Linked DNA regions of Homo sapiens. The protein of the gene in region 1 interacts with the protein of each later gene in a pairwise test. Each region holds a gene or a part of one and is shown on either strand. Other genes may lie near its edges.

Region 1 (3,500 bases):
CGGAGGCACCAGGGAAAGGCACTTGAATGAAGAAGGAAAATGAGAACCAGATTGTAACTTCGTCCTAATCCACCTGCCAGAACTTTCCTTCAGGTGTCACACATCCATTTCCATCCTAATATTAAACAATATAATGAAAGAAAGCTTTACAACAAGTCTAAATAGTTTTTATTTTCGGGCAGTCTTTTAACAAAGCAAAGCAACCGTGTGAGTTAGGTCACCAGAGACACCAAGCAATGGTGAAGGACCCCCTCCGCCCAATTCTCTATCCAACTAAATTTCCATGCCCAAAGTGATAGCTATCATTTTTTCCACGGTGTATCTGCAAATCCACCCACTGTCCCGGGGTGGCTGGGAGCTTTTTAACGGGTTGAGAGTTGCTTTTTAAGGTTGTGGGTGAGCTGAGATGGGTGACTGTGTCTTCAGGAGACACTACCATTTGGTTTGATTTTGGTTTGATTTGCAGGTGTCATCAATAAACAGAGTTCTTCGCAACCTGGCTAGCGAAAAGCAACAGATGGGCGCAGACGGCATGTATGATAAACTAAGGATGTTGAACGGGCAGACCGGAAGCTGGGGCACCCGCCCTGGTTGGTATCCGGGGACTTCGGTGCCAGGGCAACCTACGCAAGGTAAAACCCAAGCAGCCATCCACGCAGCTCTCCATATGTGCATCCCTTTGCCTGTCCCCTACTCTCCCAACCATTTCCTCTCAGGGCTTCCATGCTTGGGGAATGTCATGGGTGAGACTGCATTTGAAGGCCTGGGACACATCGACCACATTGTATGTAGGTGGTGTTTGTTGAACCATTTTGTTGGCCTGGGAATGTGAGGGTTGTGTATGTCAGGAGCGGTATGAAGGTGGCTGGTGGGTGCGTGTGTGTGTTTGTGGGCAGCACTGTGTGCATAAGAACGAGCTGCGTGGTGCACTATTCAAATTTGACATTAGAATGCAGGGAGAGCCCCCTTGTAGAAGTGTGACAAGATAACGCACTGACAGACTGCGAGGTTAACATAATTGTATCCTGTTGCTTTTTGCTGTAATTGACAAATTATGTGACTATGAGTAGGGTGCACATGAAAAGGTGAGCAGGGAGATGCAGGGCGAGTCGGGGATGGGGCATTGGAAGTGGTGGTCTCCCAACTAAAACCACCCCACTATCCTTGCCCCTCCCCCGTTCGCCCCTCTGGGTCCCACTTTCTCACTCTCTGTGGGTGGCGACTATGTGGAAGTGGTGAGGTGAAGATACTGTGAGCAGGACGGCGGGATGCCGGGAGCCGCTCTGGTCTGGGAGGAGAGATGGGACCTGAAACACCCCAGGTTCTGTGAGAAGGGCTGGAGGAAGAAGAGCGGGGGATGGGGGGGGTGGGGCGGAGGGGAGGGTCAGTTGGCTCCCCTCCGCTCCCCTCCACACCCCGAGGTAGCTTGGTCAAGAATAGGAAACAGTTTACTCCGAAGATTAATCGGTATTTGTTGTCCTCGTGACAAGGAGATAATATGCGGGATAATGGGACGTGGCGTCTCACTCCCAGGAGCACAACGGAGCCGAGGGGCTCGGGGCCAGGGGCGGCGCGCGGGACTGCGAGGAGGCTGCCGGCGCATCCGTGAGCTCTCGGACCGGCTCCGGATGCCCGGCGCCTCCATGGAGTCGGGCGAGGGAAGGGAAAATCGGTAACAGTATGCGAAATATCTGGTACAAAGGATGCTTCTGTCACTCGCAAGAATTTGTTATGGGAACAATCCTGTCGCTCTGTAATTGCTCATTAGAGAACGTTTTGTTTCTCATTAAGGCGACATGAATAAGCGTCTAGTTGAAGGAGACAGCTGTAGAAATGTTCCACAAGAGACCTCTGGACACGATTCGGCACCAATTGCCAATTAGACATGTCAGTTTTAAGAGCAGAAAACAATATAGGACGGACACTGGGAAGATAGGGAGCAAAGCGCTCGCTTCTTGTTTCCCAGCGCGGCCGCTCGGCCGGCGGAGGCCTCCTGACGCGCGGGGCCCGGGCTCCCCTGGGCGACCCCGCCCGCACGGGCCCCGAACCCGCCGCCTCCGCGAGCTCAGAGGGCCCCCAGGCCCGCTCCCGCCTCTGGTGAGACTAGCGATTGACCCCACCGAGTGTAGGCAACCCCATCCCTGCCTGACTTTTGAAACCGTAGGATTCCCACTTGTAGACACTGGACACACCCAAGTGACACCCGAACTTCGCACTCACGAGCGTCCACCCCTCCGCCCCCAGCAATCTGAGGTCCTGGTGATCCCTCCCCTGACAAGAGTCTGGCCCACTTAGTCCGAGAAGTCTTGGGGAGGGACTCAGGGCACGGTGGCCTAGGCCTGGGAGGGCTGAGCCCAGAGCCTCCACTCCGGGCTCTCCCCGGTGCGTGGGCTCCCATGAGCTTGGGGCGCAGGATACACCCCCCTTCCGCTTCTTGGAGTTGGGCAGAAGCCGAGGACAGCAGCTTCCACCAGAGGTGGCGCCCGATTCGGGCGGATTTTCGTCGCCGGCAGTCTGAGGGCGGGAAGTGAGAGTCAAATCAGCTAGGGTCCGCCTGTGATGGTTGGGGCCGGAGGTGGAGCTAGTCCAGGGGCTTTTCACTTTAACGCGCCTAGTTGCTAGAAAATTCTGGGTCAACTGGCAATCACCACCCCCCCACCCGCAAGTGAGGTTTTTGGGGGGTGATTGTCACCTCAGGCACAGGACCGTCGCCCCTAGTTGCGTGGGGAGGACACGTGGGCCAAACGAAGCACAGAGTTGCCGGCGTGGGGGTAGCGGGCACCGGTGGTGAGCTTCGCTTCACGTTCCCGGGGAATCCTCAGACTTTTTGGTGCTAAGAGGGTCCCCCTCCCTCCCTAGCCCCCTTTCCCAGCCCAGGAAGCCTTTCTTGGGTTTTAAAGAGTCCATACTCCAAAAGCATAAGGCGGGGGTTAGGTCTCAGAGGGAGACAAATATGGTTTCCATCTGATCAACGCCATGCGGCGGTGAATAAAATCGCGACGACGTGGGCTGACAACAACAAGAGACAACTCTATCCAGCCCCAATTCTCCGGCGATTTGGTGGTTTTAGGGATCACGGAGACACTTTTTCTTATCTCCTCCCCTCACCCCACCCCCACCCCCCATAATACCCAAGCCCTCTATAGGATTTAGTCAGCCTCTCTTTCAACAGATGCTACAATGTTTTGATCCGCGCTCCAGAGCTGAAAAGGTGCCGCAACCGGGTTGCTATCTTTTCTTGCTTGTTTTCCGCCTCACTGATTAAGACACTAAGAAACTAAGGAATGATTTTATTTCCCAGCAACTCTCTCTCTGTCTCTCTCTCTCTCTCTCTCTCTCACCTCCTTCCAGGAAACAAATCCTATTCCCATCGTCAGATGGTCCTGGGGCTGGGATAATGGGAGGCGCTTTCACTCGCTTTCTCACGGATTAGGCTGGAAGGTGAACGGCACCCACTGAAGGCCCCTGCTTTGCGCGGCTCCGAGGGGGCGCCTTTTGAA
Region 2 (3,500 bases), on another chromosome or scaffold:
GCCTGGGCAACAGAGCAAGACTCCGTCTCAAAACAAACAAACAAACAAAAAGAAACATCACTGTGTACCCCATGAATATGTACAATCATTATTTGTCAATTCAAAAAATAAAAAATAAAGTGAAATTTAAAAATTATAAGATAATAATAGCAACAGCAATTTATTAAACACCTATTGTGTGCCAGGAGCTGTGCTGAATTTTCTCCATATATTAATTTGGGGTTCAGCAAACCTTTTTCTGTAAATGGCCAAATAGTTGATGTTTTCAACTTTATACCATGACGCAACTCTGTTGTTGAAGCACACAAGCAGCCATAGACAAAATGTACACAAATGGGTGTGGCTGTGAGCCAATACAACTTTACTGATGGACACAGAAAAGTGAATTTCGTATCACTGTCACGTGTCATGGAATAATCTTTTTTTAAATTAAAAAAAAATTTTTAATGTGTTTATTTATTTTTGAGACAGAATCTCACTCTGTGACCCAGGCTGGAGTGCATGGCACAATCTGAGCTCACTGCGGCCTTGACCTCCTGGGCTCAAGCAATCCTCCCGCCTCAGCCTCCCAAGTAGCTGGGACTACAGGCATGCACCACCATACCTGGCTATTTATTTATTTATTTATTTGTAGATATGGACTCTCCTTATGTTCCCCAGTTTGGTCTCAAGCTCCTGGGGTCAAGAGATCCTCCCCACTTAGCCTCCCAAAGTGCTGGGATTAAAGGCATGAACCACCCCACCTGGTTGGAATATTATTATTCTTTGATTGTTTTTTGATCTTTTGAAAATATAAAAGCCATTCTTAGCTCACAGGAGGTACAAAACCAGGCTTTGGGTCAGACTGGCCTATTGGCCGTACTTTGCCCTGCAGTGGCGGCTGATTTTCCCCAAAGGCTGCCAAGTACAGTTACACAGTCTGTTCACTGCAAACTGTTCAGGCAACAAGGGCTGAAGTCCAGCCACATTCTGCTTGCTGAAAGAGGTGTATCCACTCGCAAGAGGTGCCCAGGGGGTCCCTAATTATCCCCATTTTACAGATGCAGGGACTGAGACTAGGGAAATTGAGAAAGTTTCCCAAGGTCATGAAAGAATGAATAGAGGAATTTTCAGAAACAGAGTCTGTGAACTGTCTGCGTAAGAGCCCCTTCAGATGTGCAAATGGACTGTGGGCGGTGACGGAGAGCATCACCTGAGGAAGTCTGGTGCCCGGAGGATCATGTTCTGGAAATCTTCCAGGGACAGCCGCCCATCATGGTCTCCATCAGCCTCATCCAGCACCTTCTCACATACCAGGCTCACCTCCTCGGCACTCAGCCCCCCCCGCGTCAGTTTGGTCACCGTCTGCTCCAGGTCCCACGCACAAATGTAGTCGTCGTTGTTAAAATCTGCAGAGCAGGATGGATGGGGAGTGACAGCAGGTGGCAGGAGGGCTAGGCCGGCTGTGGGCACATACTGTGCCCATGTTACAAGAAGGGGAAACTAAGGTCGGGCACGGTGGCTCACGCCTGTAATCCCAACACTTTGGGAGGCTGAGGAGGGTGGAACACCTGAGGTCAGGAGTTCGAGACCAGCCTGGCCAACATGGTGAAATCCCATCTCTACTAAAAATACAAAAATACCCAGGTGTGGTGGCATGCACCTGTAATCCCAGCTATTCAGGAGGCTGAGGCAGGAGAATCACTTGAGCCCGGGAGGTGGAGGTTGCAGTGAGCCAAGATCTCACCACTGCACTCCAGCCTGGGCAGCAAGACAGAAACTCCGTCCAAAAAAAAAAAAAAAAAAAAGGAACTGAGGCCCTGGGAGGGCACCCGAGACCCTGGTGTAAAATCTGGAACTTGCCTTAAAATTGGGCAGGGACCTGCTGGGAGTTCATTCATTCATTCAACAAGTATTTATGCAATGAATTTTTCATTCGTTCTTTTTTTTTTTCTTTGAGACGGAGTCTCGCTCTGTCGCCCAGGCTGGAGTGCAGTGGCACGATCTCGGCTCACTGCAACCTCCACCTCCTGGGTTCAAGTGATTCTCCTGCCTCAGCCTCCCAAGTAGCTGGGATTACAGGTGCCTGCCACCATGCCCGGCTAATTTTTGTGTTTTTAGTAGAGATGGGATTCCCCATGTTGGCCAGGCTGGTCTCAAATTCCTGACCTCAGGTGATCCACCCACCTCGGTCTCCCAAAGTGCTAGGATTACAGGTGGAAGCCACCACACCCAACCTCATTCATTCATTTTTACAAGCATTGAGTGCCTGCTGTGTGCTAGGCACTGTAATAACTTTTTTATTCACTCATACAAGTATTTATTGAGCATCTACTATGTGTCAGGCATCACAGTAACTGATTTTCATTCACTCACTCACTCAACAAGTATTTATTGAGTGCAATTTTCATTCATTCACTCACTTAACAAGTATTTATTGAGTGCCTACTGTGTCCTGGCACTGTGATAATAATTTTTCATTTACTCATTCAAAAAACAGTTATGGGCCCGGCGCAGTGGCTCATGCCTGTAATCCCAGCACTTTGGGAGGTGGAGATGGGTAGATCACCTAAGGTCAGGAGTTCCAGGCCAGCCTGGCCAACATGGTGAAACCCCATCTCTACTAAAATTACAAAAATTAGCGGGGCGTGGTGCGGGTGCCTGTAATCCCAGCTACTAGGTAGGCTGAGGCAGGAGAATCGCTTGAACCCAGGGAGTGGAAGTTGCAGTGATCTGAGATCGCGCCATTGCACTCCAGCCTGGGCGACAAGAGTGAGACGCTGTCTCAGTAAAAAAATAAATAAATAAAAATAGTTATTGAGTGCCTACTATGTGCCAAACACTGTGACAGCTCTTTCATTCATTTATTCAAGTATTTCTTGAACACGTACTACGTATCAAGCACCATGATATCTGTTTTTCATTTATTCACTCACTCAACAAGTATTTATTGAGTGCCTACTGTGTAGTGGGCACTGTGATAACTTTTTTCATCTATTCACTCAAAAAGTACTTTTTAACTGCTTACTGTGCACCAGGCACTGTAATAACTTTTTCATTTATTCATTCATTCATTCATCCATTCAGGAAGTATTTATTGAGCACCTACTACATGTTGGGCACCATAACTCTTTTATTCACTCACTCAACAAGTATTAGTGTCTACTGTGTGCCAGGTACTCTGATAACTTTTTCATTCATTCATTCATGCAACAAGTATTTATTGAGCACCTACTATGTGTTGGGCACCATGATAACTATTTTTCATGTACTCACTCAAAAAGTATTATGGTGGCAGGGCACGGTGGCTCATGCCTGTAATCCTGCCACTTTGGGAAGCCGAGGTGGGTGGATCACTTGAGGTTAGGAGTTCAAGACCAGCCTGGCCAACATGGTGAAACCCCATCTTTACTAAAAATACAAAAATTTGGCTGGGCGTGGTGGTTCATGCCTGTAATCCCAGCACTTTGGGAGGCTGAGGCGGGTGGATCACCTGAGGTCAGGAGTTCGAGACCAGTCTG

The links.
Region 2: the proteins of PAX6 (region 1) and CIB3 interact in binary tests that used the Homo sapiens proteins (3 or more experiments, as listed by UniProt).

What each region holds. Positions count from the first base shown.
Region 1 is NC_000011.10:31,797,823-31,801,322, reverse strand, and holds part of PAX6 (paired box protein Pax-6), read left to right. Parts: exon of another isoform or gene 1-93; intron 94-466; coding exon 467-632; intron 633-661; exon of another isoform or gene 662-784; intron 785-3,500. UniProt on the Homo sapiens protein: Transcription factor with important functions in the development of the eye, nose, central nervous system and pancreas. Required for the differentiation of pancreatic islet alpha cells.
Region 2 is NC_000019.10:16,163,526-16,167,025, forward strand, and holds part of CIB3 (calcium and integrin-binding family member 3), read right to left. Parts: intron 1,389-3,500; coding exon 1,193-1,388; intron 1-1,192. UniProt on the Homo sapiens protein: Acts a an auxiliary subunit of the sensory mechanoelectrical transduction (MET) channel in hair cells. Plays a role in regulating hair cell MET channel localization and function.